Homo sapiens: one gene and its partner. The protein of the gene in region 2 interacts with the protein of the main gene of each other region in a pairwise test. Each region holds a gene or a part of one and is shown on either strand. Other genes may lie near its edges.

Region 1 (7,284 bases), on a different chromosome or scaffold from region 2:
CTTCACCTCCTCCCCTCTCCCCTGGGCTCCATGTGACAGCCACATTTCTGACAAGGCCCTCCCAGGTCCCCGCACCTCTGCCTCCTCAACCTGGTTTTTAAAGTTTTGTTTTGTAATTTTGCTTGTTGTTAGCAGCAGGTGCTCCAGGCCTGTCTCCCTGGTGCACCTTGAGCTCCACGGGGCAAAGGTCAACCTCTTGTCCTACAGCTTCTCCCCACACCAGCCCCGGGTGCTGAGAAGCTTCTTGGTGTGAGTGCTTCTCAACCTTGAGCAGGGGTCAACATCCGCTGGGAGCTTGTTAAAACATGGATTGCCCGATGCCACCGCCTGTGTCTCTGACTCAGTGGGCCTGGGGTGGCACCCAGGAGGTTGCATTCATCCCAAGCTCCCTGGTGATGCTGCCACTGTGGTTCAGGGAGCTGAGAACGACTGGCTTATTGAGGGGACGAGCCCATGCCCTAAGTGAGGAGTCAAGACCTGTCATCCTTCCTCAGATGGCTCAGGCTGAACACTCGCCCTGGGCAGGTGCAGGGGGAAGCGGGGGTGACTTACCACTGTGGCCAGCTCCCGGTCTTCTGTGTTGTACGTGCAGGAGGTGATGAGCACATCTCCCTGAGGAAAAGCCAATGTGACCATCAGCACCTGCCACCTGGCGTTGGCAGGTGCTGGAGGCCTCGCCCCCATAGGACCACGCCACTGTGCATGCCACGGCACCTCTGGGGTACAGTCCCTGTCGTCCACTACAAGGAGCCCAGCAGATTCATGTGCGAAGGTCACAGGCTGAGTGTTCCCGAGCAAGTTATAAACCATCAGCTCCTGTGACCCAGTGGGTCACAACAGGGCCAGGGCCCAGGCCAGTGGGGGTGCAGCTGGTGGGCCATGACACATCTCAAAGGACTTGGGCAAGTCCCCACCGAGGCCTGGGCTTGGCCCTCTGTGGGATCAGGGCTCCACTGCCTGCCTTAGTGCCCTCATCTCCCCCAAACACTCTCGGGTTTGTGGTCGGCCCATCAGACTGAGGACACGCGTCCCCTGGGAGTGTCCTGTCTGCTCCACTCTTTCCAACGTCTCTCCATGAACTCCTGAGTGAGTCTCCCCATGAGGTAGCCCAGCCCAGAGCCACCCACAGGCACCCTCCCCCTGCCCTGGATGGCTCTCCCTCCCCCTATCACTTTCTGTGTCCCTCTCCTTCTGGTGGCACCCCCAGCCCTCTCAGCCACCCCAGCTGGTGGCAGTGAGTGGGACAGCCTTCCCGCTGGGCACTCACCGGATGGACCGACACGACCTTCTTCAACATGCGGATCTCCTGGGGCAGGCAGAGCCGAGGGGTGGGGGAGAGGAGACCTCAGAGAGCTGCAGACCAGACCCCCGGCCACTGTGTCCTCCCTCAGGCCTCCCTGACCTCTGGGGGTGTCCATTTTGCCCCAGCCTCTACAGTGGAAGCCAGAGCCCGCTAAGTGTGGCTTCTGGCCAGGGAGGGCATTAGATTCAAACCAGAAGGTGGTTATCCAAGACCAAGATTGATGTTCCCAGAGGGCCGCCTGGGTCTCCCGAATCCCACCACCATCTGCCATGTGCCAGAGGCCTCCCTACGATCAGACACCAGACACCCAAGTGGGGAGCACAGGCCACATGGGTGGGGGGCGGGTGGGGCTGGCCCAGGAAAAAGAAGCCAGCCTGGAGCCATCCCTATGGTGTCAGGAAACAGTAGACCCAGGAGGTCGTGTGGTGGCAGGGTGTGGGGGCGGGGCAGGGGTGGGGTGCAGGTTCCTACCTGGAAGTGAGGGCTGTAGTGATTGTCCTGGTTCACGATCTCCCACTCCCGGCCGTCCCGGACCAGCACTGTGACCACCTTTCTCCCAGTCAGGTGTGTGTGGAGCTGAGAGGCGAAGATGTGGATCCCGGAGGGAGGCAGTGCCTGTGGGGTCGGGGGGCTGCAGTGTCAGGGCCTGACCCCCGAGGGGACCCTCCCGTCCATGGCCAGGACCCGGTAGGGAGCAGCCACCCTGGGCAGTTTGCTTCCCTGGAACACTTGCATTTTCTAGGTCTTTCTCCCCGGCCAGGTTAGAGCCACCATCAGAAACCTCACGGGGAAGAGCGAGGGGGCCGCAACAGCCCCCAGCTCCCAAAGAAGCAGCCCCTAGTCCCACTCAGGAGCGACTTTCTTTCCGAGTCCTTCATCCTCTCCTGAGCCCCTGAAGCCTGACAGGTTCATCTTCACTCAGTCAACAGGCCTTTAAGGCGAGCCTCCCGTGGACAGGGTGTGGCAAAGCCACCAAGCTGAGCAGCGCGTGGCCTCTGTGCTGAAGAGCTTGCTGTCCAGGGAAAAGCAAGTGGCAGAAGGTGGTACTTGGCAGGTCCCCTACGTGGTGGGCCGAGCAGGACCTTCAGCTGCCCTGCGTTGTGGCTTCCTTTCAGCTTCAAAGCAGCCAAGGCTGCATTCTCCCTGTGCTCAGCATCACCCCGTGCTACAGCTGGGAGCTGTAGCTACAACTGGAAGGTGGTCATCCAGGACCAAGATGGATGTGACCATGGGGTGCTGCAGCTGGACACTCTGAGGCTGCAGGCCGGCCTCACAGAAAAGATGGCAGCCCTCATCTCAAGAGGTCTTATGCCATCACTGGGGCATGAGAGAATCTTCCAGAGAACGAAAGTTTTCTCTAACCTAATGCTAACTTTTTTTAGATAGAAAATGCATTTCCATGGCTGGGCATGGTGGCTCATGCTTGTAATCCCAGCACTTTGGGAGGCTGAGGCACATGGATCATTTGAGGTAAGGAGTTTGAGAATAGTCTGGCCAACATGGTAAAACCCCGCCTCTACTAAAAATACAAAAATTGGCCGGGCATGGTGGCACGTGCCTGTAATCCCAGCTACTCAGGAGGCTGAGACAGGAGAATCACTTGAACCCGGGAGGCAGAGGTTGCAGTGAGCCAAGATTGTGCCATTGCACTGCAGCCTGGGCAACAGGAGCGAAACTCCATCAAAAAAAAAAAAAAAGAAAGGAAGGAAGAAAGAAAAGAGAAGGAAGGAAGGAAGGAAAGAAAGAAAGGAAAGAAAAGAAAGAAAAAGAAAAAGAAAGAAAAAGAAAAGAAAGGAAAGAAAAGAAGGAAAGAAGGAAAGAAAAGAACACGTCTTTCCTGAAATCGAGCATTTTCTTTGTGAGTCAGTTGTCCTTTTGCCCACCCGCTGCCAGGCTCTGCCCAGTTTGTTCATGCAGTCAGCAGGTCCCAGAGCTCAAGGTCCCGACAGCCCCATCCCTGAAGGTCCCAGATGGCCGAGCTTTTTAGGACTCACTTTTGCTCCTTCCCTCTCGCTCCCAAGCAGCGGCCGCCCTGACCTTGCCGTCGCCTATAGCTTTGTGTCCCTTGCAATGGCTTGAGAGGCCACTGTGTGCCAGGCCTGGGAGCCCAAAGGGTCCCAATGCCCCTTTGGCCCCCAGAGGCCGACCCTGGCCCAGAGATGCCAGGTGTCGGCCAGGTGGAGGGAGGACTATGCTCTTCTGGGCACTCTGGTCCAAAGCAGCACTCTTGTCTTGGCCTATTTCACTGGGATAGCTAGACTAGGCCAGATTTTGGCTGCAGAATTTGTGCCCCTCTTTTATCTGCCAAAGGAGAGACAAGACTGAACATTCTCATTCTGTTACTTAAGGTAGTGGAGGACTCTGGCAAGGGGAGGCGGGTCTGTATTCCTGAGGCTGGAGAGAGGCGTTCTCACAGTCAGCGGTCAGCGGGGTCGAAGGCCCCAAGGCCCTGCAAGGGGCAGTGAGTGCTGCCTGGCCGGAAGCCGCTCTTCCCCATGAGCCCTGGCCAAGGTGCCTTTTACATGGGCCCACGCTTCACCAGTGGGCGCTTTAGGGAAGTGGGAGAGAGTGTCCACCCCCGTCTGGGACAAAAGGAGCTGATTTCCTGCCGGAGACAATGGGTGCCATGCCGGCTGAGAGCTCCGTCTCCCTTCAGCCTTGAGGAACCTTTGCTTGGAAGACTGGGATGCTCTGGGGGCTCACCCACATGAAGAACAAATCCCAATCGACCCATTTACTAGGAAGGAAAATCCACTCTAAACCTCATTACAACGAAATCTGCTGTCACGGCCACAGCTTTCAAAGTCAGACAGACTGGTATTTGAATCTTCACTCTGCGTGACTGCTGGCAGTGTGATCCCAGCAAGCCTCAGTCTCCCCATCTGTGAAATGGGTACGTCAACACTTACTTTGCAGGTCACTGTGAGAAGTAAAGCTACCGCACAGGAGGAAATGTTTGTAACATATACACAAACTATGAAATAACATCCATCATATAAGAAGAACTCCTAGAAACCAACAGTAAGAAAAACAAACCACCTACTGGAAAAACCGAGCATAGGAATGAACAGAAAACAGGAACAAATGGCCAAGAGGCAGAGGAAAAGATCCTCAAGTCCACAAATAGAAAATTCAAGTTAAACAACACTGACATGTCTTCCTCCCAAATGACAGAAAATATTTACAATATTAATAATCCAGTGGGTCAGTAAAACCGGGCACCCTCTCGTCCTATGTGTGGGAGGGAGCAGAAGATGGGCTTTCTGAGGGGCATTTTGCAAGATTTACTCAAGGGAACACTCACATCTCTGAGCAGCAATTTCATGCCTAGAAATCTACATGAGAAAATGGTTTCCTACATGGACAAGGATTTCCCAGAAGCTTCTTTCTATTGGTGAAAAGTTGAGAACAGCCTAGACACTGATTGATAGGGAGACAGTTCAGCACAGGCTTGGACCAAGATAGGGCAAGCAAAGGAGGAGATTTTAGTAGTCACTCTCTGAACTCACCAGAAGCCAAGGACAGGACCTGCTGTTGGCGCCAGTCTAAGCGCCAACCTGTGCCTCCACCCAGCGTGCATAGCCCTGAGGACGGGTGCTCCCTGAGATCCTGTACCCGGCACTTCACTGCCTCACCTAGTCCTGCCCTGCTCAGGTGCGTGGTGAAAACCCCATCCTGTGGAATACTATGCAGCAATAAAAAGGCAAATCACCAGAAAAATGCCTCCCATTTGTTGAAAAATTTGTTAACTATTCAATACAACTTTTTAAAAACACAAAAGGTTTCTAACACCTGCAAGAGCTTCCTGAAATATACAGGAAAAAGGTCTGGAAGGACACAAAGAGCCAAGAAGTGGCTATCTCAGGGGGAGGCGGCAGCGGATGAGGGGAGCGTTCTCTTTAGCTGCAGTGCCTGCGCTTGTGAGTGGCAAGTGCATGTGTGTGTTGCTTACATAATGAAGGCATATTTTAAAATGCAGCTCGTGGAAGCCTGGCACGTGGGTGTGGACTAGTGGGAGCCATGGTTATTGCTGGAGAGGGAGGTGCATACACACACAAATGGCCTCTCAGCAGCAGGGTTCCCTTGCATACAGAAAAGAGGGAGGACCGCAGGGGGATTCAGGGTCAGGGGAAACCAAAGCTGTGCCTGCCACCCTTCGTGGGCCACGACCTGCCAGGCCTCCACTGAGGGACGCGGGAGGAGGGAGGGTGCAGTGCCGGGCCCAGCCCCACTCACCAGCTGGGTGCACTTGTCCGTGCAGTAGCCAGTGAGGATGAAGGCGGTCTCCCGTGGTGGAATGGCCATCACTGGCGTGTACACCAGTCCCAGCTCCATGATCCCCGCGTTGAAGCGCCGCAGCTTGGCTGTGTAGTACAAGCGGATGCCTGAGGAGTCGTTTCGTCCTGGGAGAAGGTGGGATGGATGGAGGTGAGCGGTAAGTGGAGGCCCTCTCACTTCCCCCTGCGGACAGATTATCCCTATGACCCCAGCCACCCTCAGCCAGGAGGCAGGGCCGGTCACCCCCCATCTGCTCCCACCTGCTAGGCAGACCAAGAGCTGGCTGTCTTTGTTTCCACACCTGTGGATGCCAGGCAGCTCGCAAGATCAATTAACGCAAACAGGCTACACTCACTGGGAAGAAAGAGCTGCTGTTTCTATGAAAACTAGTTGAATGCTATGGAAAGATGTGATCAACGTGAGCCACTTAAAGCCTCCATGGAATCAGGTGCGGGTGAGATGCTGCTGATAGACGGAAACTCGTAAACAACTTGAGTTCTGTGCTCAGATTGTTTCATAAGTGCTTTGATGTTCTTCTTCCACGTTCAAAGGAACCTAAGCTGGAAATCAGCCTGCAAGACGGTGACAACCTGCAGGGTGTGGTCTGGGCAAAGAAGAGGGCATGGAACTCCCATCTGCCGATGGCACAGAAGAGCCCTGGCCCTGCGTCAAAGCTGGGCAAGTGTGAGTGTATCTCTGTGTTGAGGTTAACAAGAAGCATTCAAGGAGCACATCCTCCCAGCAGCCCCCACTTTTACTACTTTGATTTATGTCCTGCAGACCCAAGGAACCCACCTACCAAGCTGACATCTCAGGAACAATTTGAGTGAGAATGTGGCCCCCCAGGAGGAGGGCCAGCGTTGCAGGTCTAGCCCCCGTTCATGCACAGGCCAGGTCCTGCTTGGTCAACAGCGTGCTGTGTGCTCTCAGATGACTTGCTGTCCCTTTATGAGCCTCAGCCCACACTCAAGGGCCTCTTCCAAAGGAATAACATGGTGCTTCTTCGAGTCACGGAGACTGTGTCTCCTGATTATGGTGTGGCCACACCTGTTAGTTCTCCTTGCCGTTTGCTAATTGGAGAGTCCCTGAAGCTCCCTGGGCCAGCCTCCCAGTGGTCACATGAAACTGATGGTCAGAGGTCCAGGGGGCCGGGCACGGTGGCTCACGCCTTGTAATCCCAGCACTTTGGGAGGCCGAGGTGTGTGGATCACCTGAGGTTGGGAGTTCGAGACCAGCCTGACCAACATGGCGAAACCCTGTCTCTACTAAAAATACAAAAATTAGCCAGGTGTGGTGGCACGCACCTATAATCCCAGCTACTCAGGAGGCTGAGGCAGGAGAATCGCTTGAACCTGGGAGGCGGAGGTTGCATTAAGCTGAGATCGTGCATTGCACTCCAGCCTGGGTGACAGAGTGAGATTTCGTCTCAAAACAAAAAAACAGAGGTTCAGGGATGCTGGCACCCACTCGAACATCCTCACAACCAGGTGTCATCCAGGTAGCCCCACCGTTCCTGAAACTCCATGCCTAGTGAATCAGCAGCCAGGCTCTGAGTACCGGCTGGGCTCATGGTTGGCGGAGGATCTAAAGGCCTGGCCCCATGCCCCCGGATGCATGGTGGACATGGTGGACATGGCGGACATGGCGGGGTGGTCTGGAGGGGCTGTGCAGCAGGAGGCTCTGCCCCCTGGGTTATGTACAGG
Region 2 (5,322 bases):
CTCTTGCCTCGTTTTTGCATTTTTATTCTATACTTTGTGGAAATTTTTTTCTCTTCCTTGAAATACTACCTCACCCATTTTTAAAAATCGCCAGATATTTACTCCCGCCCGCTTAAATTACTATTCTGGCTTGGACACCGCCTGTAGTATGCAATGAGGAAGATGCTGAGCTTTAATTAAGCTTATAGTTCCTAAATAAACCAGGAAACGGGTTTATAATTTTTAAGGGACTCGCCCCACCCTTACACTCAGGATCTTCCACATCTAGAAACTCCCCATAGTCTCTTGCCCCCATGCAAAACTTTACCCACAGAATTGGGAGCCGGACCTCTAGCCTTAAACCAGCGTGAAAACGCTCGGCCGGAACCACAAGGACCATGCCTCTGCGGCTTTCTCTACTGCCGGCCAACTCACGGCTGGGCTTTGGGTTCTGTAACGTCACCCACCACGAGTGCCCCTGGCCCCTGACCGCTGCGCAAGGCAGACGCACATCAGATGGAGAGCCGGTACAGCTGCTCTTGATGAAAACGGCAGTGGCTCTGAAAAGAGCCTTTAGATCGACCACTTAAAAATATGCCTTAGGCCCGCTCCCCGCGGATGCGGCGGGCCAACTGGATGTCCTTGGGCATGATGGTCACGCGCTTGGCATGGATGGCGCACAGGTTCGTGTCTTCGAACAGCCCCACCAGGTAGGCCTCGCTGGCCTCCTGCAGCGCCATCACGGCCGAGCTCTGGAAGCGCAGGTCCGTCTTAAAGTCCTGCGCGATCTCGCGTACCAGCCGCTGGAAGGGCAGCTTGCGGATCAGCAGCTCCGTAGACTTCTGGTAGCGCCGGATCTCCCGCAGAGCCACGGTGCCGGGCCGGTAGCGGTGCGGCTTCTTCACCCCGCCCGTGGCCGGCGCGCTCTTGCGGGCCGCTTTGGTAGCCAGCTGCTTCCTCGGGGCCTTGCCGCCGGTCGACTTGCGGGCAGTCTGCTTAGTACGGGCCATGCTGTCTCATTGATAGGAGAGGGTCTAGGCAGTCATATTTATAGACATAGTCTCCTCTTGATTGGGCCTGAAAAGGAAATTTTCAAACTTGTGATCTCATTGGTTAAAATTCAATCCTCTTTACTGGGGCGGAAGATTGTTCTGCTAATCTTTCTTCCCTTATTATTTCCCCCTTTCCTGATTTTTTTCTGTAATTTTATCGATCACGGATTGTTTTTGAAGACTTTCCTTTAAATTAGTCTAACTTTTGTAAAAGCAATGTATAAAGTGTTTTGCATCCCATTTTAACAGAGATTTTTTTTTTCCCCGAATTCAAGCATGCCCTTCTATGAGCTATCAGCCTGTTTCAGGTTACCTGTTACTGTAGCTCTTCTACCATAGCTAACATTTATTTCATGTCTGGCATTTTGCTCAGCAAGTTAGATGCATTGTATACCATGAATGACCGAAGCTTAGCAAAAAAATATGTAATTGAAGGAATGAAAAAATTGATCTTATTTACTTGACCTTGGAACCCAGCCAAAGCCATTTCATGTGGGTAGTGTGCTGACCTATATTGACCTGATATTAGAGCCTCTGCCTTCCTTTAGTCTTTTCTCCCTGCGATGTGGTTCCTTCTTCCTCAACCTCACATCAATGGCCAATTAGGTCCTGCAGATGTTAAGCTTCTAAATCAAAGAAGGACAACACCAGAAATTCATTTCTCCTTTACAATGTAGAATAGTTTGTAAATTAGTGCTTATTAGCCAGATTACAAGTTCAAGTTTCAAAGCAAATTATTCATCAATTGCTGACTTGCTAACATTTTATTCAATAAAGTATTTTATAATGCTTAAAAGTTTAGTTTTTTTTCTGTTCTCTATGAAGAGAGTAAAGATGCTTTGCTTTTTCAATTTCATGTGCTTTGAAGTATGTATTGTTCAGAACAGTAAATATCATAGTGGTTATGTAGAAGCAACTGATACTTAAAAGTTGTAGTAGTTAATATAAAACTTTTAATCATATCCTTATTTTACTAAAAAAATCATTACAAACTATAAAAACTCAAACCTGAGAAAAGCAGGCCCGAAACGCTTAAAACTTACTTTGATGGTGTCATTATGAACTATCTTCCTACTGAAGTCAAAGTAAAGTAAAAGTGATTTCAAGGGGACTTCCTGAACACTAAACACAAAGTAGAAATCTGTGAGCTTAATTAATATCTTCAAGAGTCTCTCATGGGCAGAAGCATCCTCCTCTCGAGAGATCTAAAATGTACAAAAGTGTAACTGATGTGAACAAATGTTATCCCTCTCTGTGGTAGTTTTGTAATAATGCCTTACAGACAGCAGGCACTACTCAGTGTTTAAAGTTCTTCTACATACACTTTATCATTTAATCCCTACTCTGTGAAATAGATGTTACTCTTCTCACTTTACAGATAAGAAAACTGAGTCTCAGAGAAATTATGGCTTGTCCTGGGTAAGTAACAAAGCCTGTGTAATATTCTAAAGCAAAAGAATGAAACTGTAATGATGAAACTTTCTATTTCATTAGGCTTAGAGGATACCTTTTTTTTTTTTTTTTCATTTGAGATGGAGTCTCACTCTGTCACCCAGGCTGGAGTGCAGTGGTAGGATCTCTGCTCACTGCAGCCTCTGCCTCCTGTGTTCAAGCAATTCTCCTGTCTCAGCCTCCTGAGCAGCTGGGACTATAGGCGCAAGCCACCACCCCCAGCTAATTTATTTATTTATTTGTATTTTTAGTAGAGACACGGTTTCACCATATTGGTCAGGCTGGTCTCGAACTCCTGACCTCAGGTGATCCACCCTCCTCGGCCTCCCAAAGTGCTTGGGTTGCAGGCATGAGCCCCACGCACCCAGCCAACACAGTTTAAAGCACAAAAGCGTTTTCCCATCAAGCAATCACATCATCTAGTATTTCTCAAACATCTACACCCAACTATTCCCATTAGAAGGGAAAACTACCCCATGGAATCTGGATGATAGCCCAAAGCAGCCCACCCAAGCATCACATTTCTTTGCAATATACTTTCTCTATGATGTATGCAGTCTTGACCATAATGTAGGATGTGTTCATTTAAATAAGAAAATGGCATTCAATCAGACTTTAATGGCTATAGGTATCATTTCTCAGAATAAAACAATCAGATGTATAGTTGCCTTAAAAGTCATCTTTAATAACAGAATTCAGATCAATTGTTAGTTCAATTTCACCTAGTCCCCACATTGGACACTAGAGTGACATTTCTGTGAAAGGTCTCAATCCACCACTATATCAGAAGCAACTTTATGGTGCAAAAGAAGCTCTGCTTTTCTTCAGTTGTAACAAAGACGGAATATTCCTCCTAAAATTTTTGAAGTGTCCTTCAGCAGAAATTATAAGGCTGTGCAGCTTGAATACTGAGAACAGAAATTTCATTAGGTAGCACGGGGGAATAGACAAGAGAAGATTAAAATTTACCTAACAAGAAATAAGAAGGCAAAAGAAAATATTAATAAATGAATTATTACGCACATAATGTTTTGTATGTACATGTGTTTACTTTTAATACAAAAGTAACGGACTAAGTTAACATAGATGTTCCAATAAGATAATTTATGTTTCATTTTTGGCTTCAAGTATCCTCAGGGTTATAAGTATCATAAGCTGAGACCAGCTGAATTGGTTTGTGGGTTGATGAGGCCCTATGCCTGATTTGAATTTCTCTTGAATGGTCTGCAGCCCTGGACCAAGTTGAAGAAGCCATGAGAGTCTCAGCTTTTTTCCTTACCCCATTATGAGATAAACTCATTCCTTAAATATCTTGCTCATTTGATAAAACTTGGCACCTTTCTCCTTTCTACTGGTCCCTAATACTTACTACCTGTACTGTAAGCTCAAATTTTTTGCAATTTCTGCCTTTATTATGTAACGTATTCCACTGGAATATGTGTTACAGGAAAGGGGTCCCGATCCAGACCCCTAGAGAGGGTTCTTGGATATCCAGCAAGAAGGAATTCAGGGCCAGTCCATAAAGTGAAAACAAGTTTACTAGGAAAGTAGAGGAATAAAAGAATGGCTACTCCATAGAGAGAACAGCCCTGAGGGCTGCTGGTTGCCCATTTTTATGGTTATTTCTTGATTATATGTTAAACAGGGGTGGGGGGGTGGACCACGCCTATAATCCCAGCTACTCCAGAGGCTGAGACAAGATCATTTGAACCCCGGAGGCAGAGGTTGCAGTAAGCTGACATCGCTCCACTGCACTCCAGCCTGGACCACCCAGGGATAATCCGTCCCCCGCACCCCGCCCCCCCAAAAAAATCACTGCCAGTAAGGAACAAACAGCCAGGACGAAGTACTAAGATGTAAAGAGATGTAAAATAGCCCGGGCGCGGTGGCTCACGCCTGTAATCCCAGCTCTTTGGGAGGCCTAGGCGGGCAGATCACGAGGTCAGAAGATAGAGACGATCCTGGCTAACACGGTGAAACCCCGTCTCCACTGAAAATATTTTTTTAAAAAAAATTAGCCAGGCGTGGTGGAGGGCGCCTGTAGTCCCAGCTAATCGGGAGGCTGAGGCAGGAGAATGGCATTAACCTGGGAGGCGGAGCTTCAAGTGAACCCAGATCGCGCCACGGCACTCCAGCCTGGGTGACAGTACGAGACTGTGCCTCCAAAAAAAAAAAAAAAAAAAGAAAGATGTAAAATAATGTGATACATTCTGCAAGAGTTATGACAGAGTCAGAAAGGGGCAAGCATGTTTCTTCTCTACCCTGAAGCAGCCAAGGGAGAAGAAGATATCTGTTGCCAACGCTGGGGTGTTACAAGTGCACACTGCCATGCCCGGCTAATTTTTTGGATTTTAGTAGAGACAAGGTTTCACTGTGTTGCCCAGGCTGGTCTCGAACTCCTGAGCTCAGGCAATCCACCCGCCTAGGCCTCACAAAGTGCTAGGATTACAGGCGTGAGCCACCACGCCCGGCCTATATATGCATATTTTTTTCTAACACTTACATACTTTTTCTTGGTGCCAAGAATGTTTTAAACACTTTACATGTATTAACTCATTTTATCCTCACAAAACCCTGTCAAGTAGGTAGTGTAAGTATGTCCATTTACAGATTGGGAGATGGAGGAATCACAGAGCGGTTAAGAAACTTTCTCATAGTCACACAGTCGGTGCCAAACCAGATTTCAACTCCAGAGTCTTCCTTTAGTCACTATACTACACTACTAATATCAAATAAGTAAGATGTTGATGCAACATTGATAGTAATTTAAAAGATTAGAAACAACCAAGAGCCGGGGTGTAGTGGCCCATGCTTGTAATTCCAGCATCTGGGAGCCCGA

What was found.
Region 1: the proteins of H3C13 (region 2) and DBH interact in binary tests that used the Homo sapiens proteins (3 or more experiments, as listed by UniProt).

Annotation. Positions count from the first base shown.
Region 1 is NC_000009.12:133,646,268-133,653,551, reverse strand, and holds part of DBH (dopamine beta-hydroxylase precursor), read right to left. Parts: intron 5,707-7,284; coding exon 5,540-5,706; intron 1,919-5,539; coding exon 1,775-1,918; intron 1,307-1,774; coding exon 1,268-1,306; intron 613-1,267; coding exon 553-612; intron 1-552. UniProt on the Homo sapiens protein: Catalyzes the hydroxylation of dopamine to noradrenaline (also known as norepinephrine), and is thus vital for regulation of these neurotransmitters.
Region 2 is NC_000001.11:149,812,693-149,818,014, forward strand, and holds H3C13 (histone H3.2), read right to left. Parts: upstream 1,002-5,322; 5' UTR 990-1,001; coding exon 579-989; 3' UTR 533-578; downstream 1-532. UniProt on the Homo sapiens protein: Core component of nucleosome. Nucleosomes wrap and compact DNA into chromatin, limiting DNA accessibility to the cellular machineries which require DNA as a template.